Linked DNA regions of Homo sapiens. The protein of the gene in region 1 purifies or fractionates together with the protein of each later gene. This does not show direct contact. Each region holds a gene or a part of one and is shown in the gene's direction. Other genes may lie near its edges. The genes, in order: NSUN2, THG1L, DDX49, TIFAB, ERCC3, UPF1 and METTL3.

Evidence for each region.
Region 2: the proteins of NSUN2 (region 1) and THG1L fractionate together in Homo sapiens (co-fractionation; one large-scale study listed by BioGRID). This does not show direct contact.
Region 3: the proteins of NSUN2 (region 1) and DDX49 fractionate together in Homo sapiens (co-fractionation; one large-scale study listed by BioGRID). This does not show direct contact.
Region 4: the proteins of NSUN2 (region 1) and TIFAB purify together in Homo sapiens (tandem affinity purification; one large-scale study listed by IntAct). This does not show direct contact.
Region 5: the proteins of NSUN2 (region 1) and ERCC3 purify together in Homo sapiens (affinity purification with mass spectrometry; 2 studies listed by BioGRID and IntAct, with this or other methods). This does not show direct contact.
Region 6: the proteins of NSUN2 (region 1) and UPF1 fractionate together in Homo sapiens (co-fractionation; one large-scale study listed by BioGRID). This does not show direct contact.
Region 7: the proteins of NSUN2 (region 1) and METTL3 purify together in Homo sapiens (affinity purification with mass spectrometry; 2 studies listed by BioGRID and IntAct, with this or other methods). This does not show direct contact.

The regions. Positions count from the first base shown.
Region 1 is NC_000005.10:6,616,045-6,619,544, reverse strand, and holds part of NSUN2 (RNA cytosine C(5)-methyltransferase NSUN2), read left to right. Parts: intron 1-1,520; coding exon 1,521-1,595; intron 1,596-2,687; coding exon 2,688-2,818; intron 2,819-3,500. UniProt on the Homo sapiens protein: RNA cytosine C(5)-methyltransferase that methylates cytosine to 5-methylcytosine (m5C) in various RNAs, such as tRNAs, mRNAs and some long non-coding RNAs (lncRNAs).
Region 2 is NC_000005.10:157,734,420-157,737,919, forward strand, and holds part of THG1L (probable tRNA(His) guanylyltransferase), read left to right. Parts: intron 1-156; coding exon 157-326; intron 327-1,426; coding exon 1,427-1,515; intron 1,516-3,467; coding exon 3,468-3,500. UniProt on the Homo sapiens protein: Adds a GMP to the 5'-end of tRNA(His) after transcription and RNase P cleavage. This step is essential for proper recognition of the tRNA and for the fidelity of protein synthesis.
Region 3 is NC_000019.10:18,925,923-18,929,130, forward strand, and holds the end of DDX49 (probable ATP-dependent RNA helicase DDX49), read left to right. Parts: intron 1-380; coding exon 381-455; intron 456-1,843; coding exon 1,844-1,932; intron 1,933-2,042; coding exon 2,043-2,114; intron 2,115-2,205; coding exon 2,206-2,394; 3' UTR 2,395-2,708; downstream 2,709-3,208. UniProt on the Homo sapiens protein: ATP-dependent RNA helicase that plays a role in various aspects of RNA metabolism including the regulation of mRNA export and the levels of pre-ribosomal RNA. Regulates the stability and synthesis of pre-ribosomal RNA and thereby regulates cell proliferation.
Region 4 is NC_000005.10:135,449,552-135,453,537, reverse strand, and holds the start of TIFAB (TRAF-interacting protein with FHA domain-containing protein B), read left to right. Parts: upstream 1-1,186; 5' UTR 1,187-1,329; intron 1,330-2,815; exon of another isoform or gene 2,816-3,038; intron 3,039-3,588; 5' UTR 3,589-3,598; coding exon 3,599-3,986. UniProt on the Homo sapiens protein: Inhibits TIFA-mediated TRAF6 activation possibly by inducing a conformational change in TIFA.
Region 5 is NC_000002.12:127,270,145-127,273,644, reverse strand, and holds part of ERCC3 (general transcription and DNA repair factor IIH helicase/translocase subunit XPB), read left to right. Parts: intron 1-683; coding exon 684-780; intron 781-2,191; coding exon 2,192-2,309; intron 2,310-3,500. UniProt on the Homo sapiens protein: ATP-dependent 3'-5' DNA helicase/translocase. Binds dsDNA rather than ssDNA, unzipping it in a translocase rather than classical helicase activity. Component of the general transcription and DNA repair factor IIH (TFIIH) core complex.
Region 6 is NC_000019.10:18,859,459-18,862,958, forward strand, and holds part of UPF1 (regulator of nonsense transcripts 1), read left to right. Parts: intron 1-862; coding exon 863-980; intron 981-1,367; coding exon 1,368-1,524; intron 1,525-2,551; coding exon 2,552-2,694; intron 2,695-3,500. UniProt on the Homo sapiens protein: RNA-dependent helicase required for nonsense-mediated decay (NMD) of aberrant mRNAs containing premature stop codons and modulates the expression level of normal mRNAs.
Region 7 is NC_000014.9:21,501,341-21,504,840, reverse strand, and holds part of METTL3 (N(6)-adenosine-methyltransferase catalytic subunit METTL3), read left to right. Parts: intron 1-959; coding exon 960-1,177; intron 1,178-1,263; coding exon 1,264-1,668; intron 1,669-2,937; coding exon 2,938-3,113; coding exon of another isoform or gene 3,114-3,132; exon of another isoform or gene 3,133-3,133; intron 3,134-3,500. UniProt on the Homo sapiens protein: The METTL3-METTL14 heterodimer forms a N6-methyltransferase complex that methylates adenosine residues at the N(6) position of some RNAs and regulates various processes such as the circadian clock, differentiation of embryonic and hematopoietic stem cells, cortical neurogenesis, response to DNA damage, differentiation of T-cells and primary miRNA processing.

The DNA.
Region 1 (3,500 bases):
CATGGTATAACTGAGTAACAAGTTTTTTTAAAAGGAAAGAAACAAAACTAAAGACATCATCTGTTCCGTTCCCATAGGAGGTGCACGGATGATGATCCCAGGTGATAATGACTTCTGAATGACATAAGTTTGTCAAGACCAGAATTCAAAAGCTGCCACAAAACTTGTTAGCACAGAATGCAAGCTTTAGATACGATACCACATTATGGAAGAATGCCATTTTGTTTCAGTAAGTGGCAGAGTTACTGCTCATGGCAAAACTCAGTATGAAACTTGCAGCTGGTGGCTCTGAATATAGCTGAGTGTTAAAATAATCTGGAAAAAGCCCTCTTTAAAGTAAAATTTAAAATACATCATGAACTAAAGTTTTTTTTTCCTCTAGGTTGCAATTTTTCAGTATTCCTTGGGGTCTCATGTTTTCCTACCCCTGTTTTTTGATCAGAAAGATAACTCGTTCCTTGTATCATATTCTGAGATCTGAGAACGCAGTGACCTTATGAGCAAGAGGTTGCAAGCTGGGGAAATTTCTGAAATTGTGGTGGGATTTCTACCATGCAAACAACTAGTGTACAGCCAGGAATGCCATTGCAAAGTGGGGATTACATCTCATGGGATAATTCCATCCTGCAGACCTAGTCCCTCGTGTACACGCGGCTAGACCATCAAGGAAAATCAGCATTTACAGAGAAAGCCAACAAAAACAGGCGTTACCTTCTGGGAAAACAGGGCAGATAAAATTAGACACAGAAAGTAACAAATCCAGTCTTTACTATAAAATATACATGGAAAGAGCTTCCATTAACAAAAACATGAAAATAACTTCCATTAAATAAAAGTAGAAAGTCAGAAATTTAACGGTGATTGTAAGAAAAATTTAGCTATTAGTAAGAAAAATTTAGCTATTATATTAGCTTAATTGAAATTACTATGGAAAATTTATTAGTCATTATTCATATAATTCTGATTAAAATGCCATTGTTGATTAACTGAGTTTTTCAATAGTATTTTAGGTTCTGAAAAACATGAAAATAACTTCCATTAAATAAAAGTAGAAAGTCAGAAATGTTTACCTGTGATTGTAGGAAAAATTTAGCTAATATATTAGCTTAACTGTGGAAAATTTCTTATTAGTCATTATTCATGTAATTCTGATTAAAGTGTCATTGTTGATTAACTGAGATTTTCAATAGTATTTTAGGTTCTGTGTCCTAGGTCTGCAAATTAGTCTTGCTAGTGTTTTTTCCAAATGGAAGCACATTAATATCTCCTTAGTGAATGGAGTTTACTGTTCAAATCCATTATTTTCTGCTTGAAAATTGAAGTATAATTTAAAACTATAATACATTAGAAAATCCCTAAAACAAAAGCTGAAAGCAGATTGCAGTTGGTGAAAATGGAGATTGTTTCCTAACTGATATTTGTAACACTTGTTTTGTAACTTAGCTTGTATGTGACATATCTGTTAAAGTGCAGTCATCCACCTGTAGGGAGCTTTGCACTCATAAATATCTTTTTTCCAGTGGAGACGGCACTATGAGAAAAAACATTGATGTTTGGAAAAAGTGGACCACCTTAAATAGCTTGCAGCTACATGGGTAAGTAAAACTTCATCACTGCTAACACTGTGTGACAAGTAGATCAGCAGAGATTTATTGTTATGCAAGTGAGCATCCGATCTTTAATTAGAGAGCTGTAAGCATCAGAGGATGGTCAATGGCCACCTTCAACTGTTTTATCAGAAGTTATTTGAAAACCTTTCAAGAGCAATAACTGCAAATTGTATACATTTCAGATAACACGTTTATTAAAAATGCCTTCTATAAAAATTTCTTGCAACACTTCAGATATGTATTTTTCCATGAAATGACCGTTTACCTCTTGATGTATGCATTACTAATCTTTTCTCTCTGTTTTTGTTCTTTTGTATCATCGTTTTGCTAAGAGACATTTTGATCTCTTAGAAATATTTTTCGGTTGGCTTTTTATGATGGGGAACTATTCATTAAAGAACAATTGGAAAATTCTTAAAGAGAAATCTCATAACACGATGATCACGTCTGTTAATGTTTGGTGTGTTGTATTGTTTTTCTGTTTACAGGGATTTTTTAAGTACTTTTTCCAAATACTTTTGATCATGCTGTCTGTAGAGCAGTGTATTCTTTTTTTCATTTGACATGACAAATGCCATGGTCTTGCATGCAGGACTGTACTGTGCCTGAGCCACAGAATACTAATTAGCATCCACCACAACCAACTATAGCAGGAGGCCTCGTCTCCATAAAATACTGTCTACTGTTTTGTGACACAGAGACAAGAGTTAGGACTGGAATGTATGATACCAATTTTTCATAGAAAAACCACATATTTAGGAAGTATGGAGGTTTTTTAAATAGTGAAATTTCATCTAATACATTGAATTCTGTTGTTACTGAACTTTATACTCTGCTGGTTGACATATTGGGAAAGGTTAACAGAGCAGTAAGAATATTTATATAATACATTTTTTTTATTAACATGAAACACTTTATATAAGTTTACTCTAACTTCATTTAGATCCCTGGAAGGTTTTTTTTAAGTATAATTGTGTTATAAAAGCTTGTAATGAATATGTGACATAAGGAGGTGCTTCTAATATGTGCACTTCATGGATACATTTGGCCTTGCAGTCATCTGATATCTCCCCTTAGCTTACAGCTGCGGATTGCAACACGCGGGGCTGAACAGCTGGCTGAAGGTGGAAGGATGGTGTATTCCACGTGTTCACTAAACCCTATTGAGGATGAAGCAGTCATAGCATCTTTACTGGAAAAAAGTGAAGGTAAGCACGCTTGATGGATCTTTTATTAACAGCATAGGGGGCTTTTCATATGTGTATGGTACAATACACATAACGTGAGGTTTACCATCTTAATCATTTTTGAGCCTGCAGTTCAGTCCCGTTAGGTATATTCCCATTGTTAATCACCACCACCATCCATCTCCAGAAATCTTCACCTTGCAAAACTGAAACTCTGAACTCCTTTAAACAGTAGCTCCCATCTCTCTCTTCCCTGCCCCTCACACCACCGTTCTATTTTTTGTCTGTATGACTTTGACTACTCTAGACCTCACAGAAGCGGAATCATACTGTATTTGTCTTTTCGTGACTGGCTTATTTAACTTACTGCAGCGTCCTTGAGGCTCACTTGTGTTGTTGTCTGTGTCAAAATTGCATTGCTTATTAAGGCTGAACACTATTCTGTTGTTTATATAAACCGCATTTTGTTTACCCATCCATCTGTTGATGGACATCTGGGTTTCTTCCACTTTTTGGCTGTTGTGAGCCATGCTGCTGTGAGCATGGTATACAAATACCTCTCCAAGATCCTGGTTACGATTCTTTGGATATACACTCAGAAGTTGAATGGCTGGATCATATGATCATATAGTAATTCTGTGTTTAATTTTGGGGGGACCCCACCATGCTTTTTTTCACAGTGGCTGCGTCATTTTGTATTTCT
Region 2 (3,500 bases), about 150 Mb from region 1:
TTAAAATAGTGTTTCTTAGCCAAATGCATTTTATCTCCTGGCTTTCTGGGCAGTTTGTGTACTCTCTGTGGTACCCACAGGTCTTATCATGGTGTTGAACTAATTCCGTGTATTTTTCTTTTTCTTACTCCACCCAATGTGCGTTACATTTTCAAGTAAGTTCATGACTCACGTGGCCTCCCAGTTTGCCTCCAGCTATGTGTTTTATTGGCGGGATTACTTTGAGGACCAGCCCCTTCTGTATCCCCCAGGCTTTGACGGAAGAGTCGTGGTGTATCCCAGCAACCAGACTTTAAAGGACTACCTCAGCTGGCGACAAGCAGATTGTGAGTGGCACCAAATAAACACATGTAGTTAAACCACCAATTCCATGTCTTACAGGTGTTGATCTGATACAGGATTGGCTCACATATACTTTGTTTCAACATATACGTTGTACAGAATGCAGTATTTAAATATTTTTTCAATTAGTTAAAAGTATTTGAAAAATTAAATTTTACGTAAAAACTCCTTATCTCTATTTTTTTTTTTTTTTAAGACAGAGTTTCGCTCTTGTTGCCCAGGCTGGAATGCAGTGGTGTCATCTTGGCTCACTGCAACCTCCACCTCCTGGGTTCATGGGATTCTTCTGCCTCAGCCTCCCGAGTAGCTGGGATTACAGGCATGTGCCACCACGCCCGGCTGATTCTGTATTTTTTAGTAGAAATGGGGTTTCTCCATGTTGGTCAGGCTGGTCTTGAACTCCTGACCTCAGGTGATCCACCCGCCTTGGCCTCCCAAAGTGCTGGGATTATAGGCGTGAGCCACCACGCCCAGCCGCCTTATCTCTATTTTTTAAAAAAATCAGATGTGGCAATACTGGATCTGCATTCTTACTTAGTACTAGACAAAGCCTGTTCAGTGGCAGCTACCTTTACACACACACACACACACAAATGCCAGTGTGCCATAGTCTCTGCCATTCCCTGTTGTTCCTCTGGGGTCACCCACTGCTTTACACATTTATGTTCATGCTGGCCTCAGTGGGTATTTGAATTGTGACCCTTGCCTTATGTGACTGTGATGATGTTTGTGAGGCTTTTACTTGCTTGTTCTAGTTTGAATTTTCCAGAAGAACTGGAAAAGAGATTGAAATAATATAAATCAAATAACTTCTAAAGTATTCCTAGGATTAACACACAAGTTAACAGATTTGTATAATGTGTAACTGAAATGACCAAATAAAACTGTTGTTAGGGATGAAGTTTTTTCCCTACTGCTCCTTCCCTCCATGTTCCGTGTGTAGGACTTCGGTCAAGTCACTGAATGTCTCTGAGATCTCTTTACTATGAAAGAGGAGAGGGTCAGGGCTCTAGTATTCCTTGAAGAATGAATATTCAATAAAGATTTTATGTATATAAACATTACTATTTTGTTCTCCTCACAGGTCACATCAATAATCTTTATAATACAGTTTTCTGGGCACTTATACAACAATCTGGACTAACACCAGTACAAGCCCAAGGGAGATTACAGGTATAAAGATCTTACTACATTAATACTTAACTGGGGACAGTTCGCTGTAGGCTCTCCCATAACTTTTTTTTTGTTAAATTTACATTTCTTTCTTTTAAGATCCCTGTACAGCTTTGTTTTGAAAGGATATAAAAATCATAATAGGAGCAGCTCTGCTGCCTGCTTGGTCTGTAATCCTGGATGAATTACTGCTTCTCCCTGAGCCTTTGTGTTCTTAGTGGAAAATGGAATTGACGGCACTGGCTCTGCATTCCCACGTGCTAACACTTGCCTGAAGCCGTGTATGACTGTGTATGACTGCCGTCTTCAGCACTGACTTTTTTTTTTTTTTTTGAGACACAGTTTCACTCTGTTGCCCAGGCTGCAGTACAGTGGTGTGATCTCAGCTGATTGCAACCTCCACCTCCTGTGCTCAAGCGATTCTCGTGCCTCAGCCTCCCAAGTAGCTGGGATTACAGGTGCATGCCACCACACCCAGCTAATTTTTGTATTTTTAGTAGAGACAGGGTTTCACCCCGTTGGCCAGGCTGGTCTTGAACTCCTGACCTGAAGTGATCTGCCTGCCTGGGCCTCCCAGAGTGCTGGGATTACAGGCGTGAGCCAGTGAGCCACCACACCTGGCCAGCACTGAATTTTTGTCAGTCCCACCACGCCTCTTCCCTCATTGCCATTTTCCCTGCTGGGCACCTGTAGTTTCTTGGGTTTATGACCTCTGTGTATAGGAAGAGTTCGTGCTGAGTTTGTTACTTTCATAAATGTCATAATAACTACTCACATCATGCTTCTGTGTAATTTTATCCTTTCTGCCTCAGTTCTTTATAGGTAAAATGTAGAAAATAGTAGTTTCTACCTCATAGGTTTATGGTGAGAATTAAATGGCATGATGCACGTAAAACACAGAATCGTATGAAGCACATTGTAAGTGCTTAATAAATACTGGTTTTTGTTATAACAGTGCTACTTGTAGGATGACTAACTGTGAAGTGAGGTAATGTGTTGTAACAGATCTTTTATTTGTATTTTATTTTATCTATTTATTTATTTTTTGAGATGGGTTCTTGCTATTTTCCCCAGGCTGGTCTTGAACTCCTGGGCTCCAGCAGTCCGCCCACCTCAGCCTCCCAAGTAGCTGGGATTACAGGTGCATGCCACTGTGCCCAGCTGTAACAGTTACTAATACAATGCCTGGTACATTATGTTTGCTCAATAAATGGTTGTCATTTTTAATAATAGTAATGATAGAGATTTTTATATAGCAATAATAGGAAAACTGGGGCCTGGTGTGGTGGTTCACGCATGTAATCCCAGCACTCTGAGGAGGCCAAGGTAGGTGGATCACCTGACGTCAGGAGTTCAAGACCAGCCTGGCCAACATGGTGAGACCGCTTCTCTACAAAAATTAGCTGGGTGTGCTGGCACACACCTGTAATCCCAGCGACTCAGGAGGCTGAGGCATGAGAATCGCTTGAACCTGGGAGGTGGCAGTTGCAGTGAGCTGAGATTGCACCACTGCACTCCAACCTGGGCAACAGAGTGAGACTTTGTCTAAAAAAAAAAAAGGCATACTGGTAGGTATATCCAGGTTTGGAAGAGTCAAGTTCAGATTTCAATTCTTCGTAGAAGAATAAGGACAACCTTTTAACCTTGGGGAATTTATATAACCTTTCTAAGTTTTACTGGACCAAATACATAATATGTATTCAGTTAGTATTAATTCTCCCCACTCCCTTTCAGTCTTGACTTGTGAAGCCAGTGTTTGGTATAGGAGAGAATTTTATCTAAGTAAGATCATAATTGCCCTTAAGATGAAAATTTACTAATAACTATAAGATGTTTGATAAAATCCTTCCACTTCTTGATTGTGGAAATTTAGGTTGTGGGTCGAATGGATAGTAGCACTAGGGGAGAAAGAAGACATGCAGAGCTTTTAATATCTATTTTTATTTTCTCAGGGAACTCTTGCAGCAGACAAGAATGAGATTTTG
Region 3 (3,208 bases), on another chromosome or scaffold:
GTCCACCATCAGTGCAGTTTCGGCCCTAGTCAACGTCACAGAAAACAGCAAGCAGAGATCTTGGGCTGAGGCCCGTCAGGGCTAATGGCTGGCATTACTTAGACTGGGTTCCCTGGCAGCCAAGCCAAAAAGGGAAATCGGGCAGTAACTAACTGCTGTGTAAGGCCAGACTGGCAGACCTGCCTCTCCCCAGCGACCCGTCCTCCACACAGTGGTCCTGCTTGGGGTCAAGCCCAGACACTCTGGGCTGATCCCTCCCAAGCCCAAGCCCTTGTTCAGCATCTCCAGGACCCCTGAGCTGTGTAGCTGTCAGGATCTACCTTTATTCGCCCCATGTCCTGACGCCCAGCACATAGCAGATAACCGGCACATCCCCACAGGGCGGCAGGGTCAGGCCATCACGCTGGTGACACAGTACGACATCCACCTGGTGCACGCCATCGAGGAGCAGATCAGTGAGTGGGGTTGGGGTGGGTGGTAGAGAAGGAGGGGTGGGGTGGGCAGAGGTGGGCACCTCGGGGTGAGACCCATTTTCCCGTCAGACACCAGCCGGCCTGCTCCCGTGAGCAGATTTAGGCTGGGGCTTCCTTCCCTAGGCACCCCCAAAAGAAGTTCTTTTGCCCATTTATTGAAACAAACTCCCCATAGTTGTCGCCAGCAGCTGAAAGCCACATCAGTCAGGAGGGGACTTGGGTTTCTTAGACTGAGATGTATGGAAGGTCCCTGAGATGTCAGAGGCCCCATTGACAGGGCCTGGCCTGCTAAAAACCCCTGGGAATGGTTTCATATGCAGCCAAGACAGAGACACTTCCTAAGGTATCTCTGATCACTGCATAGACTGTCCTGAAATTTAGAAACATCTGGACTTGGCCAGGCACAGTGGCTCACACTTGTAATCCTAGCACTTTGAGAGGCCGAGGTGGGCGGATCACTTGAGCCCAGGAGTTCAAGACCAACCTGGGCAACATGGTGAAACCCCGTCTCTACTAAAAATACAAAAATTAGCCAGGTGTGGTGGCGCACGCCTGTAATTGCAGCTACTTGGGAGGGTGAGGCATGAGAATTACTTGAACCCGGGAGGCAAAGGTTGCAGTGAGCCAAGGTCGCGCCATTACGCTCCAGCCTGGGTGACAGTGAGACTCTGTCTCAAAAAAAAAAAAAAAAAAAAAAAGAGAAACATCTGGACTTTAAGGCCGGGCACGGTGGCTCACACCTGTAATCCCAGCACTTTGGGAGGCCAAGGTGGGTGGATCACTTGAGCCCAGGAGTTTGAGATCAGCCTGGGCAATGTGGAGAAACCCTGCCTCTCCAAAAAATATAGAAACTAGCAGCACACGCCCGTAGTTCCAACTACTCAAGAGGCTGAGGTTGGAAGATTGCTTGAGCGGAGGCTACAGTGACCTGATTGAGCCACCACGCTCCAGCATGGGCGACAGAGTAAGACCCTGTCTTCAAAAAAAAAGAAAGAAATATCTGGACTTTAAAGGACACTGTTTGCAAGAAATTAATATTCATGGTTAAACTCATAATGCTGCTAACACCGAAAAAAAATGGCGGGGGGAGGCTGAGGCATGAGAATTACTTGAACCCGGGAGGCGGATGTTGCAGTGAGCCGAGATAGTGCCACTGCACTCCAGCTTGGGTGACCGTGAGACTCTGAAAGACAGCGGTCCATACCTTCCTTACCTCAGAAATCCCTGATCTTGCTCAGCTGACCCTTACCTGATATGGCCCCAGATGGCCTTGCATACCCCACAGCATGGGGAACTCACTACTTGGCTGAACTCCCTCTCCATGTCACGTCTCCTCCCCACCCCCACCCCCGGCTTTGCTGTCCCCACAGAGAAGAAGCTGGAGGAGTTCTCCGTGGAAGAGGCCGAGGTGCTACAGATCCTCACACAGGTCAACGTGGTGCGAAGAGAGTGTGAGATCGTGAGTGTCAGAGGCGGGCAGGAACTAAAGTGCTCTCCAGGGCCGGGGGTGCTCCCTTCCAGGTGGGGCCCCCGTGACCAGCATCTCCTTACCCCACTTCCCTCCACCAGAAACTGGAGGCGGCCCACTTTGACGAAAAGAAGGAGATCAACAAACGGAAGCAGCTGATCCTGGAGGGGAAGGTGAGGGCCGAGCCCGCAGGTAGGGGGTGGGTGGCCAGGTTCCCTGGCGGGGGCCGCCAGCTCAGCCATCCCCTGGTCCTCCCTGTGCCAGGACCCTGACCTGGAGGCCAAGCGCAAGGCTGAGCTGGCCAAGATCAAGCAGAAGAACCGGCGCTTCAAGGAGAAGGTGGAGGAGACGCTGAAGCGACAGAAGGCTGGCAGGGCTGGCCACAAGGGGCGTCCACCCAGGACACCGTCTGGGTCCCACTCAGGCCCAGTCCCCTCCCAGGGCCTGGTCTGAGCCCCACACGGCCATCTGCCCAGTCCTTGACTCGTCCATGGAGCTGAGGGTCGGAGGAACCTTCCTTGGGGGCAGCAGCCCTTCCCGGGGGCCTACCCAGTGCCCCACAGCAGAACCCGTGGGCGCTCGTGTTGTGCGGGCCCTGCTCCTCTGCCCCGAAACCACTGGCTGGTCCCTTCCCTGAGCCCTGGCCAAGATTCAGGCTGCAGGGGAAGAAAGAACATGACCGGGAGGTTGTGACCCCAACCCAAGGTCACCCCCCAGGGGTGCCGCATACAGGAGGTGCTTAATAAACGGGTCTTTTGACTTCCTCAGTCTGACTTTCGAAGAGCAGGGGGACAGGAGAGGTGGGGTGCAGCCGCTGTTGTTTCTCAGGTGTCTGCCCAGAACACCATGTCCATTTCCACCAGGCAGGCCCAAAGTTTTGCAGACACCAGCTGCTCGAATGGCCATGGGATTTTGGGCCCTGAAGCCCCTTCTCTGGGCTTCCAGTTTCCTCATCTGGAGAATGGGCATAGCAACTGCCCTGCTCTCCAGAGGCAGCTGTGAGGCTTTGGTGAGGTCAGTCCTGTGCCGAATGGGTGCAGCTATAAGCTTCCCTGGCCACCCACCTGGCCACATCTGGGGTTTGTGGCCAGAGTGAAGGGGCCATGAAAGTCCAAATTTGGCCAGACAATGTGGGCTAAGCCCAAGGGGACAGGCAGAGAGACACCAGAGCCAGCTTCCTGGCTGTGTGGCCTGGACCCCCCTCGGACTCCAAGCCTCACCCCTCATCTGCAAGCGGCTTATAACTGCTACATGGATTCAGGGGCAC
Region 4 (3,986 bases), about 130 Mb from region 1:
AACAAATAGAGAGATATCCCATGTCCATGAATAGGAAGATTCAATACTGTCAGGATGTCAGTTCTTCCCTCCTTTATTGATAGATTTGATGAAGTCTCGTCAAAATCCCAGCGAGTTATTTTGTGGCTATTAACAAACTGATTCTAACATTTATATAGACAGACAACTCAAAAGAGCCAAGACAAAATTGAAAGAGAAGAACAGAATTGAAGGACTGGCAGTACCCAACTTCAAGACTTACTACAGAGCTGCAGCAATCAAGACAGTAAGGTATTGGTGAAAAAATAGACAAATAGATCAATGATACAAAGTAGAGAGCCCAGAAATAAACCCACATGAATACAGTCAACCAATCTTTGACAAAGGAGTAAAGAGAAAACACTGAAGGAAAAAAAACATGGTCATTTCGGAAAATGGTGCTGAGACAACTGAACACCTATAAGCCAAAAAAAAAAAAAATCTAGACACAAACCTTACACATGTCAGAAAAATTAAAATGTACGTATAGAACTATAAAACTCCTAGGAGATAACGCAGGTGACTTGAACACACTGGTGGACTATGAAATGCTGGGCTACGTGAAGGGTTAGCACCTTCACATTCCAGGGCAGCCAGAGCCCGCAGTGCTGGACAAGCGACCATCTTCACCCCTTCCAAACTGCATGCAAATAGGCAGAGCTCGGGCGATGGGGAGTGGGCATGAGAGACCACCTTCTCACTGTTCTGCAGGAGAGATCATGTTCTATGAGTGGCCATTTACTGCCCTCTCCATCCTCCCCGTCCCCAGGCCCTGCCCTCTCCTGAGACCCTCAGGGAAGTGCCATGTTGCCTACAGTTTCCTTGGCCAACCTCTATCCAGCCAGAACGCTCTCCTCATTCTCCCACACTCAGGGGACTCTCCTGTCCCGTAGCCATCTGTCCCAAAAAGCTCTTCTTTTCTAACATGCCTGGGCTGCTTTGACCCCATCCTACTGGCAGGTGGAGAGGAACTTTGCAGATACCCTGGGTGCAGGTCCTAAGGTCCCTGGGGGTGGGGTAGGAGAGGCTGGCAGAACTGAAACCCAGGAAGGCAGGCCATCTGTCTCAGAAGGGGCCCCACGCTGGGGTTTCTCAAACTCTCAGCAGTGGAATTGCACTTCTGCAATGAAAAATTACACTTCTATTTTCTTTCCTAAAGGGAAAAAGGAAGAATGCAACAAAACTGAAGTATGTTCTGCCACGTTCCTGAACTGCAGCCATAGGAGCCCTCCCAGCCCTACCCAAACCAGCCTACTCCCTCTCAAGAGCTCACAGCTGCAGGACTAGAGCCAGATGTGCCCCGGCAATAAGGTAAGTTGAAGCCAGAGGGGCTTGAACCCATGGGGAGAAGGGAGGGCCTGGTGGGGCTGGGAGGAGGGCTCCCCTGAGACACACATTCTGGAGTGTCTTCCTCCTGCCCCGTCCCAAAGGCTGGATTTGTAGGGCTGGGTTTCTGTTTCCCCAGAACACCTGGGATCCAAAAGACACGGGACAGCCTGTCGTGGATGGGCTCCTCTTTAGTGGGAGATTTCTGTTAGCTCTGGTTGGAGCAGAGAGTAAGGCCACACAGCAACTGTGAATCTTTCTTCCTGAGGGATTCTTTCAGGGTCTCTGTGCCGTGATATTAGTTTCTGGGAGTGAACTCTTGAGTTTCCAGCCAGGCCTGACAGCATGGGTTGCCCAGCCCACCTGTCCTGGGCTCAGCCTGTAACGCATACCTCGAGAAAAGGCTTTCTGGCTGGGCGTGGTGGCTTACGCCTGTAATCCCAGCACTTTGGAAGGTCGGGGCGGGCGGATCACCTAAAGTCAGGAGTTCGAGACCAGCCTGGCCAACATGGCGAAACCCCGTCTCTACTGAAAATACAAAAATTAGCTGGGCATGGTGGCGGGCACCTGTAATCCCAGCTACTGGGGAGGCTGAGGCAGGAGAATCCCTTGAACCTGGAAGACGGAGGCTACCATGAGCCAAGATCATGCCGCTATACTCCAGCCTGGGTGACAGTGTGAGACTCCATCTCAGAAAAAAAAAAAAAAGAAAAAAAAGAAAGGCTTTCGGCAGACTATGGCCAGATGGGGTGTGGGTAGAGGCATATGTGTGTCTGTGCCTTAGGGGAAAGGGGGTGCCCTCAGGCCTCTGATAGTGAAAGGGTGCCCTCACTATCAGACTAAAAGGTCTCAGCCATTAACCTACTGCATCTAAAAGGCAGGAGGGGCAGCAGGTTCAAGACCTGGAGGGACATTGAGTTCAAGCCACCTGCAACAGGCTCGCTGTCCCACAGCCTTTGAGACATGATCCCATTTGTGGTCTCTCTGGGTGATTTCACCATGTGTGTGTGTGGGCTTCTCATTTAGCCACTCGGCAAATGTGCCCCTGGACATTTATGGTGGCCAGGCCCTATTTGTATGGGGCAGTGGAACATGGGGCAGCAAGAACCACAGCCCAGACCATACCCAGCCCTTGGGAGGCCTCAGGGGCAGGAAGAGAGGAACTCAGGGAAGACAGGACAAGGGCCCACAGAACTTGGGCATGAAATGCAAAGATGGAATGAATGGAGAGTAAGGTTGGCCAGGTGTCCTGGGGGATTCCCCCTGTTGTGGGAGTCAGAAGGCAGCGAAAGGTCACCTTCCCCAGGGAAGGGAGCTTCACAGGAGAGGTAACACTTGAACAGGGCCTTGAACCGTGGGCAGTATTTGGACACAGAGTTTGGGATGGAAGATGCATTCTTAGGAGAGAAATAATGTGAGCAAAAGCCTGGTACCCAGAGAATGTATAATTAGTTATTCAAATCCACTCAACCCTTGGTTCCTGTTGAAGATGATGGCAGGTCCTGGGCCACAGGGTGCTGGTGGACATAGCAGAGTTTGTGTTCCTCAAACCCATGCAGGAACAAAGCTGGCCATTGTGAGTGGCCTTCCAGCAAGTGCCCATAGTAACCACTCGGAATGTGCTAGCTGTTTACTCTTCACCAGGGTTTCTAGGCAGCCTTTCTGGTGGCCAGGACTAGGCTAAGCATCCTCCTTCTGTGTCCTTCCACACATCCTGATGCTAGAAACACCTCTCTCCTCCACCAGTGGGTGCTCCCAAGAGTCAGGGCTCGGTTCGTTGTTGAATCTGCTTCTCCCCAGCAGCTGGTTCCCTGCTTGGCTCAAAGGAGGATTCAGCAAGGGTTTGTTGTGTGACTGTCAGATACAAGGAAAATGTAGCCAGTCTGTCTACCCTTTCCTTTCCAAGAAGCAGGGCCAAGTTGTCTCCAAATAACCAAAAGATTACCAAATCCCCACCCTGCAAGCCAGCATGCCTTATCCCTTGCATAGACAAGGACAGATATATCTATACTACAGAAATCCAAAAGTCAGACAGAGTGGGTGGCATGTTCTATTCAGAGTATGAGAGAGACTAAGCTCATGACCTTCCACACCAATTCCAGCCTTGGCTCCATCCTGGCTTGGGCAGAGTGATTGTATGAACAGGCACAGGGCCCCTGAGGTGGGCAAGTGTGTCTGGGCTCAGGGAGCCACAGAGGTCTCTGACTGAAGCTGAGCCTGTGTGTCCATGTTCCAACTTCCCAGGACTTCTTCCATGGAGAAGCCCCTCACCGTCCTGCGAGTGAGCCTGTACCATCCCACGCTGGGCCCATCTGCCTTTGCCAATGTCCCACCACGGCTGCAGCATGATACCAGCCCTCTGCTTCTCGGACGGGGGCAGGACGCCCACCTCCAGCTGCAGCTCCCTCGCCTCTCCCGCCGTCACCTGTCCCTGGAGCCCTACCTGGAGAAAGGCAGTGCCCTGCTGGCCTTCTGCCTCAAGGCCCTGAGCCGCAAGGGCTGTGTGTGGGTCAATGGGCTGACGCTGAGGTACCTGGAGCAGGTCCCCCTGAGCACCGTCAACAGGGTCTCCTTCTCAGGCATCCAGATGCTGGTTCGCGTAGAAGAAGGCACATCCCTGGAGGCTTTTGTCTGCTATTTCC
Region 5 (3,500 bases), on another chromosome or scaffold:
CCCGAGTAGCTGGGATTACACACATGCGCCACCACACTCGGCTAATTTTGTATTTTTGGTAGAGACGGGGTTTCTTCATGTTGGTCAGGCTGGTCGTGAATTCCCAACCTCAGGTGATCCACCCGCCTCGGCATCCCAAAGTGCTGGGATTACAGGCGTGAACCACCGCGCCTGGCAGGGAGCTAGAAATTAAAGAGAAGTTTTTAAAACTTAGTGTTATGGGAAATCAGCACAATAATGGCTGAAGGGCACTTTTCTCCTTTCTGCTCATCTCTTGGAGCATGCCTGTGTCTTGGCAAACAGTTGCTTCCAGCCTTTTTTTGGAAATAGCAGTGGTTTCTTTGCACCTCTCTTTGGGCTTCATGAAATGTGGAGATGCTCCTTGTATAGACTCTGTGCTGAGAGTAAGAGATGTTGAAGCAGGAAAAAGCATAGTCCAAAAAGAAAACGAAAAATGGAAAGGAGGGAATCCCGAAGAGAATGGTGGGCCTAAACCTAGAATCAGTGGGGAAGGCTGGGAGGTGCATCTGTAGCCAGTCATTTTTTTGGGTGTAACGATATTCCTACATGACGAGGGCTTTCTACTTGAGAAGAGCTAGCCTGAGCTCCTTTTTCCCTCTGATGTGTTTTCAAGATAACTGAGGCATTATTCTGTGGTCTAACACAGCTTCATTCTTCTCTAGACCCTATATCTACGGACCTACGTCTCAGGGGGAAAGGATGCAAATTCTCCAGAATTTCAAGCACAACCCCAAAATTAACACCATCTTCATATCCAAGGTTTGTGTGGCATATGGGGTGGAGGTGAGGCCCCTAGCACTCTGGGGACCTGGGGGGTACACTATGATTCCTGGACAGTGAATTCATGTCTGCTGAAGGAACTTCTCCTGCATGTTTTCATTTCCGACATGTCCAGGGATAGGGGGCACTGCCTGGGGTTAGTGGAAGGAGCAGACTGAGGATTTGCATGCATCATGGATAATCTATAAAGGCTATTTGAGGTTTTTCCAGTTCTTTTGGGGATGTAGAAGTTTTAAGTTGTATTTCCTTATTTATAAAAGGAAAAAAAGTTCATTTCCTACTCTGGCAAAAGTAGGCATTTAGATGAAGTTCTCTTTACAAGTTGGAGATCCTGTGTGTCGCGGCAGCCTTTGTCCTGGTTCCTGGTGTCCCTTGATGATGGGTGGTGGATGTCAGCACAGACTTCCGCAGGCCCAGCTCAGGGATGGTTTACTCTGCAATCAGAAGCTGTAGCCCCACAGTTTAGAATAGTCATTCAGATTAAGACAGACCCAAAGCCCAAAAGAAATGAGATTTTACAACCGGGCGCGGTGGCTCACATCTGTAATCCCAGCACTTTGGGAGGCTGAGGCGGGTGGATCACCGGAGGTCAGGAGTTCGAGACCAGCCTGGCCAACATGGAGAAACCCTGTCTCTACTAAAAATACAAAAATTAGCTGGGTGTGGTGGCAGACGCCTGTAATCCCAACTACTCAGGAGGCTGAGGCAGCAGGGTTCAGTCACTTGAACCCGGGAGGTGGAGGTTGCAGTGGAGCTGAGATTGTGCCGTTGCACTCCAGCCTAGGCAACAAGAGCGAGACTCCGTCTCAAAAAAAAAAAAAAAAAAAAAAAAAAAAGAAATGAGATTTTATGTGATTGTGGCTGGGCGCTTATAAGCACCAAACCTTCATGTCTGTGGCTGGGAACCTCGATGTTTGGAGCCCCAGAGCTGAGGAATCCACCTACAGTCAGAATTCCATATGGGGCAGTTGTTCCTCCCAGGTCACATCCCACGTGTGCTGCTGGTGTCAGTGGCCAACAGGTAAGAGTATGGATGGTTTTGTGGAGACATATTTCTGTAGCCAAAAAAATGAATGACTCAAAGTCAGTCTCTGTTCAAGGGCCCTCTCATCTCTGGGCTCCTGGCACCCAGCACTGAATGTCACTGATGCCTGGTATTAATTCTTCAGGATGACTCTTAGCAGAACTCACACAAGGTCCTGGAGACCCAGAGATGCCTTTCTGAGGTTTATTGCTTCACCTCTCTCTGCCTGCATCAGATAGACCCTGGTATAAAGAGGAGAAAAGAGTGATTATGTTTCAAAATTATCTACAGAACTTATTTAAATTCTGGATCAGTTGACTTTTTTTTTTTCCTCATATATAAAAACCTTCCAACTTGTTTCTGTAGGTAGGTGACACTTCGTTTGATCTGCCGGAAGCAAATGTCCTCATTCAGATCTCATCCCATGGTGGCTCCAGGCGTCAGGAAGCCCAAAGGCTAGGGCGGGTGCTTCGAGCTAAAAAAGGTAAAGTGGCCTTTCATCTTCTGTTGCAGGAGGTCACTCCTCTTAAACCACTTTAGTTAGGAAGACGATAGGGGTGAGAGCTGCCATGTGCCCTGGGGCTAAATAGACTCTGGAGGGAGAGAATCCCAAAGCAAAGACCTAGATCCTTATGGCCCATCATTATTTCTCATACCTTGGGGGTGAATATGCAGGTGTTTTCCATGACAGTGTCACGGAATCCACACAGATGTGCTCTGTACACTGTGCAGCTGTGTTGGTAGATGGTGAGAGGGAGCCAGGGCAAGGCAGTGCTTATGGGGTAGACATGGAAGGGAGAAAACAGAGCTGGGCCACCAGTGTAAGTGGAGGAGCTGGAAGCTGCTTCTGGAACTTGATCAGGAGGCAGGGAAAGGTTTGGTAGGAGCAGCTTGGGCAGACACACAATGGGCACGTCATTCATAACCTGTGCAGAGTGCCGCCCTGGTGGCAGCTTGCAGCAGGGGCAGGGCAAGCTCAGTGAGTGAGGAGGTGAGAATCCTCATTGCAAAGGCTTTTTCTGAGGAGGCGTGGCACCCCTGTGCTTGCTTACTGCGGTAAAAGGGCCCAGACTGCCATTGTGGACATGGCAGGGACTGACACTCTTGCTAAGAGATGGCCGTGTCTGTCTTACTGGGACCAGGGCACATCCTGAGACAAGGACACAAGCCCTATCCTCAAGGAGTCTGCTTATTCAAGGAGGCATCTGGACTGCTAGAATGTTTGAAAATGACAAGATTAGTGGGCATCTGTTGGAACTGTACTGCGTTCAGATGTGTTTAAGAAGCGTCTAGTAGCTTGTATTTAAAATGGAGATGAGGCAGATAGCATGGACTAGAAATAGCATGGACTCAGGCACCAAGCCAGCTGTGTCACCTTTGGCAAATTATTTTCTCCTCTGAGACTTGGTTTTCCCATCCAAAGTGGGGGTGACAATCCTGTCTTGCCAAGACTGCTGTGAGGATTCAGCTTATAAGTCATAAAATGTAGTCGGCTGGCTGGGCACAGTGGCTTACACCTATAATCCCAGCACTTTGGGAGGCCAAGGCAGGAGGATAGCTTGAGCCCAGGAGTTTGAGACCATCTTGGGCAATGTAGTGAGACCCCATCTCTACAAAAAATAAAACTAGCTGGGCGTGGTGGTGTGTACCTGTGGTTCCAGCTACTTGGGAGGCT
Region 6 (3,500 bases), on another chromosome or scaffold:
TGGCCACTGTCCAGGGGTGCGCATCCACAGCAGCCCCTGGGCTGAGGGACTTCTGAGCTCATCCGGCGGCCCCTGTGCTCGCTGTAACAGCAGTGATCCACTTGGCCTCATTTTCAGCTCGACGTGGGATCATATGATGTGTCCTGGCGTGTCTGGCTTCCTCTGTCCATGTCAGGCTGGTGCTGTGCAAAAACACCGGTTTTCTCCACTGATGGAAGCTCCCAGTAGAGTGAGGAGGGCACCTGTGAATTGAGAAACTGGTTTTACAGTTTTAAGGAAACGCAACAGGGCCCAGAAAAGCCAAGATGAGCATGAAGAGCCCGAAGAAAGTGGCTGCTCACATGGCAGGACGCCCCGGCCCCCAAGCTGCAGTGTTGGGCCCCGGCCCAGGAGGGAGCCCAGAGGCAGAGCCACCGGTCAACAGGCCCTCAGCAGGAATGGACAAGGCTGCAGGGCAGGGGGACACTGTTGGCTCAACAGTGTCACACACAAGTCAGTTGTAGGGGCTGTGGCGCCTTTAAGGCAAGCTTCTGGAAGGAAGCAGGAGAATATCCTGTATCCTGGGGTTGGCAGAGATCCAGGCTGCAAGAAAGCCCTGGCTGAGACCCTGTTCCCTGTTCAGGGGCTGAGCCAGCTCTGTGCTGGCCATGGTGCTCTCGGTGGCCTCTCCTCAGCCTTGCCCAATCCTGGGCATCTCTGGCCAGGGGACCGGCTCAGGTGACCTCACCAGGGCCTCACAGATCGAAGTCTCCTGCCCCAGGACCTGCAGCACTGTAGCGTAGCAACTACATTGCCCTGTGTCTGAACTCATTTGAGGCGGGCTAGGGCTTTTGAAGTGTTACTTCTTTCCCTCCCCTCACAGCGGATCGTGTGAAGAAGGGATTTGACTTCCAGTGGCCCCAACCCGATAAACCGATGTTCTTCTACGTGACCCAGGGCCAAGAGGAGATTGCCAGCTCGGGCACCTCCTACCTGAACAGGTGAGCAGGGACAGGCCCACCGGCGTCTGCAGGTCTTGGGGACAGCTTGAGAGGTTGTTGACCCATTCTACTTATTTTTAACATGGGACTGAAACTTTTTTTGCCTTCATTTCCTGTTTAGCCTGTTTAGACTCTAAACCGTGTTGTTTCTGCCTCCTTTTCCATTGTACTTGTTTTTTATTGGGCAGATACTTGCTAATCCCACATGGCAGCCGTTTCTGCCCCTCGAGACTCCCCTGGTGAAGGCTGGGGAAGCTCAGCTGTGCAAACGCCAGTGATGGCAGCTGCCTTCCCGCAGGGTGTTGTGTCTGCACCCCTCACGGCCTCCAGCCTCAGGGCTCGGGATCCCACAGGTGGAGCCCAGCACTGACAGCCTGGGTTTCTTAGGACCGAGGCTGCGAACGTGGAGAAGATCACCACGAAGTTGCTGAAGGCAGGCGCCAAGCCGGACCAGATTGGCATCATCACGCCCTACGAGGGCCAGCGCTCCTACCTGGTGCAGTACATGCAGTTCAGCGGCTCCCTGCACACCAAGCTCTACCAGGTGCGCTGCGCCCTCGGGCACACTTGGTCTCCTGGGCCATGCAAGGGTATTGACCCTTGACCTTTAAGTTACCCCCCAAGAGGGGCCCGTCCTGGCTGGAGCTCAGAATGGCCCAGGAAGCACCAGCTGGCCCACCCTCTGGGGAGGGCACAGACAGCACATCCCCACAGACCCTGCGAAATTCCACATGATCAGGACAGAGACTTTGAGAAATACATCACAGGGATCAGAAACATGGGCTGAGATTGGCACATCAAGGTGTTTTCTCGGGATGGTTGAAACAAGTCCAAGGTGGAACGGCAGTGGTCTGTGCCTGCCACACACTGGATGTTGTGCTGTGGAGACCGTGGTGTTCACACCTTTATTGACACCCGGATGAAACACCCACTGCGGGTGTGTGGGGAGGAGGCACAGCTCTGCCTCCATGAGGAAATGAGCCCAAGTGCTGAGTCTGAGTGGCCACATGGCAGTGGTTTCTGTTCTGTTTTTGAGCACGGCTCAGGTTCTCTGGGATGAGCACGTGTGCTCTTAGTGCTGAGAAACAAATCTCCGTGGCTAAAAGAGAACAGGCTAGGTGTCATGGCCCACACCTGGAGTCCCAGCACTTTGGGAGGCTGAGGCAGGGAAGTCGCTTGAGGCTAGGAGTTCCAGACCAACCTGGGCAACGTAGGGAGACCCTGCCTCCACCAAAAAAAAATAATAACTGGGTATGGTGGCATGTGTCTATGGTCCCAGCTACTCAGGAGACTGAGGTGGGATCAGCTGAGCCTGGGAGGTCAAGGCTGCAGCGAGCTGAGATTGTACCACTGTACTCTAGCCTGGGTGACAGAGCAAGATCCTGTCTCTAAAAAAAGAAAACAAAACGAAATGGCAGCAGAGCCAGGACAGCCCCTAGGTGCGGTGAGCAGGCGCCAGGCCCCAAGCTCCCGGGTGGGATTTGAGGGTGGGTCTTGGTGTGTTTCCTGCATTTTGGGGGGACTGGGAAGGCAGCCTGCTGGCTGATAGTGACCACAAAGCTCCCTTCCAGGAGGTGGAGATCGCCAGTGTGGACGCCTTTCAGGGACGCGAGAAGGACTTCATCATCCTGTCCTGTGTGCGGGCCAACGAGCACCAAGGCATTGGCTTTTTAAATGACCCCAGGCGTCTGAACGTGGCCCTGACCAGAGCAAGGTAGGGAGGCTGCCTGCTGCATGCTGCCCAGCCGCTCATCGGTCCTCACTTCCCAGGGAATTTGGGGCTAGGGTTGGGGGTTGCCAGGGCCAGAGGTCAGAGGACTCTGAGCAGCAGTTGAGAAACGATGTCTCACTGGAGAGATCTTTGTTTCCGTGTCCTGGGGGTTTGCTGTGGCCCCTGTGCCTCAGCCCAGCAGGACGTATTTTTCCAGGCCCTTCTGGTCTGATTCAAAATAAATCTTGTGTGTGTCTGTCAAGTTGTTTAATCTGAGAGGCTGTAAGTTTTGGTCCTGTCCACTATTTTTGGTTCTAAAATACAACTTTTGTGAACTGATGATAGCAGAAGGGACCCCGAGAACAAGGTGTCCATTCTGTCATCCCACATAAAACTAGACATCAGGCCAGGCATGGTGTCTCACACATGTAATCCCAGCACTTTGGGAGGCCGAGGCAGGTGGATCACCTGAGGTCAGGTGTTCTCGACCAGCCTAACATGGTGAAACCTCCTCTCTACTAAATACAAAAAAATGAGCCGGGCGTGGTGGCACATGCCTGTAATCTGAGCTACTTGGGAGGCTGAAACAGGAGAATCGCTTGTACCTGGGAGGAGGAGGTTGTGGTGAGCCGAGATTGCGCCATTACACTCCAGCCACTGGGCAACAAGAGCAAAACTCTGTCTCCAAAGGAAAAAAAAAAACACTAGACAGCAAGGACCCATTCACCAGCTGGAAGTTGGGGGGACCTGGCCTGTGGCTCCACCCAGCACAGGGAGAGAGCCTGGTGCTCCTTCCGGCTCATATGCGC
Region 7 (3,500 bases), on another chromosome or scaffold:
AGCCTCCCCAGTAGCTGGGATTATAACCTTGCATCACCACCCCCAGCTAAATTTTTTTTTTTTTTGTATTTTAGTAGAGATGGGGTTTCACCATGTTGGCCAGGCTGGTCTCGAACTCCTCACCTCAAGTGATCCACCCACCTTGGCCTCCCAGAGTGCTGGGATTACAGGCGTGAGCCCCAGTGCCTTACCAGAATGGAAATATTTAAGTAAACAAAATATTTCTAAATGTAAACTAATGGCCTACTTATTTAGCAATTTCAGTTCAGTTCTTAGGAGTTTAATATTTCATCTATATTTTAATTAACCACAGATATTAGGCTTTCTCAAAGATAACATTTTGTCCTAATTTTAGTTTCTCAAATCGTTATTAAGGTTATGATGGCAACCCAGCTTGTGAAGTAATAGATGATAATAATATAGTCAGGAAATATCATTTGGTAACCAAGGCTTCAGCAAAGTATTAAGATTTTTGTGTTTGTGAGTGTTATAGGTAACACTGTTGGCCCCCAACATTGTCATTTTGTACACTTTGTTGATCAGTGGCCTGAATTCATTAAAATTCACACTACATGCCTCAAAAAGAATATTGGATCCCAGCCTAGGTTGTTGAGTATATTCCTGTCCTTTATTAAAATGTAGGTTGATAGAAAGGTGGTAGGGATATTTAAATCTATCATGCTAATTTACTTTCTTTGTATCACAGCAAGGATAGGGAATTAGGAAAAGATTACTCACTCAATAGAGAAAAGGTAGATAGAAAATCCAGTATTATCTTGACAAAGCAGTGAATGTTTTAGTATGATTGAGGATAGGTAATCTAGTGCTAAAGTTGGTCACAGAATTTCCTGCACAAAATGAAAGATCTGTGTATGGGAATGCTAGAGAATTTGACTTCTCAGAAATATATAGACCAACAGTGGTTGCCTTTTTTCATTTTCACTTCTCTTCATTCTTAGATCTACGGAATCCAGAGGCAGCATTGTCTCCAACCTTCCGTAGTGACAGCCCAGTGCCTACTGCACCCACCTCTGGTGGCCCTAAGCCCAGCACAGCTTCAGCAGTTCCTGAATTAGCTACAGATCCTGAGTTAGAGAAGAAGTTGCTACACCACCTCTCTGATCTGGCCTTAACATTGCCCACTGATGCTGTGTCCATCTGTCTTGCCATCTCCACGGTAATGACCTGACAGAGTTAGGATTTACCACTTATTTTCAGTTCACGGTCAGTGTCTTATTGCCCATACCTCCCCTCGTTCTCTAGCCAGATGCTCCTGCCACTCAAGATGGGGTAGAAAGCCTCCTGCAGAAGTTTGCAGCTCAGGAGTTGATTGAGGTAAAGCGAGGTCTCCTACAAGATGATGCACATCCTACTCTTGTAACCTATGCTGACCATTCCAAGCTCTCTGCCATGATGGGTGCTGTGGCAGAAAAGAAGGGCCCTGGGGAGGTAGCAGGGACTGTCACAGGGCAGAAGCGGCGTGCAGAACAGGACTCGACTACAGTAGCTGCCTTTGCCAGTTCGTTAGTCTCTGGTCTGAACTCTTCAGCATCGGAACCAGCAAAGGAGCCAGCCAAGAAATCAAGGAAACATGCTGCCTCAGATGTTGATCTGGAGATAGAGAGCCTTCTGAACCAACAGTCCACTAAGGAACAACAGAGCAAGAAGGTAGGGGTCATGTGAAAATACTCTCACAATATGCTCTTAATTATAGCTTTGTTTGACAGGGATTTACCCCTAGGGCAAGGAACTGTTTACAGCAGTGGTTCTCAACTGGGGATGATTCCCTACTGCCCAACTCCCAGGGGATCTGGTAATGTCCGGAGACATTTTTATTGTCACACATGGGGGAGTGCTATTGGCATCTAGTGGGGGTAGAGGCCAGGGATGTTGTCAAACATCCTACAGTGCATAGTGGGACAAACCCCCACAACAAACAGTTGTCTGTCCCAAAGTGTCAACAATGCCAATGTCGACAAATTCTTATTTAGATAATCTGTCACTGAATCTGAAAGAATTGGATCAAGAGAAGAGGAATCCAAATATATAGAAATATAGGGAGATGAATGGAGAGGAATACTAGACCAATTATGGAAATTGACTAAATAATGTGAATTGGTTCTGAGTATAAGCATTGGCCTGACATGAGTTCTTATCTGTTTGGTACTTCTAGTGCGTGAGTTTGAACAAGTTAATTAACTTCTCTTGAGCCTTAGTCTTCTCATCTGTAACATGAAGATAATACCAGCGTATCCTGCCTTATAGAATTGAATAGACTCTGAGCTAAAAAGTAAAGTGTTTAGCACTATACTTTTTAGTTCAGCACCCAGTAAATATGTTTTTTGTAGAAGGAATGCCTTCCTGGGGAGGGGATGTTAACATAATGCTTAGCGGTAGGAACCAGGCCTCTTCCATTTTAATTTCATCCCAAATGCATATTTGTGAGGAAGGACTGAACCCCTAACAAATCTCTTATCTGAAGGCTCCAATTTTCCAATATTAAGTTAGCTAATTTAGGTCTAGGCACAATGGCTCATTCCTGTAATCTCAACACTTTGGGAGGCCAAGGCGCGAGGATCACCTGAGGCGAGGAGTTCAAGACCGGCCTGGGCAACATAGACCCTATCCCTATAGAAAGTAAAGTAATTAAAACATTAGCTGGCATGGTGTCACGCACCTATATTCCCAGCTACAATTGAAGGCTGAGCTGGGAGGATCACTTGAGCCTGGGAGTTCAGTGGGAGAAACAGTGAGTTATGATTACACAACTACACTCTGGCCTGGGTGACAGCAAGATCCCATCTCTTAAAAAAAAAAAAAAAAAAAAAGTTGATTTATCTCTTAGAAGACATTAATGTCAAAAAGAATTTGCGGAGTTGGTCTAAGAGCCAATTTGATCTATAAGACATTTTAAGTCCAAGGCTACTTCTGTCACAGGTCAGTCAGGAGATCCTAGAGCTATTAAATACTACAACAGCCAAGGAACAATCCATTGTTGAAAAATTTCGCTCTCGAGGTCGGGCCCAAGTGCAAGAATTCTGTGACTATGGAACCAAGGAGGAGTGCATGAAAGCCAGTGATGCTGATCGACCCTGTCGCAAGCTGCACTTCAGGTCTCTTGGAAGGGAATGAGGTGGGATGGGTTTGTCAGAAGCAGCCATTCCTTTTCAGCATATTCCTTCCAGTCATTGGGGTTCTGTCTGTAATCTTATTTAGTTTATGGTTTGTGTAAGTCCTCCAGACCCTGAAGGTGTACTTTCAGAAGTGCATTGTGTGGGAAGAATACAGGCTGTACTCCCAAATAACTGAGATTTTTTTTTTAAAAGCTCCCTCCCTCTTAGAATAGCAAAGTATGTCTGTCTCTGAGCCACAGTGAAAGTTAAAGTACTCTGAAAGGAGGATAATCTTAGGAGAAAAGGAACCTAAACTCTTAGGTCAGTGTTTTATTCTGTTCTACCCAAGTCTCCTGCACTGCTTGCCTTCCAGTGGTAAAACAGGAA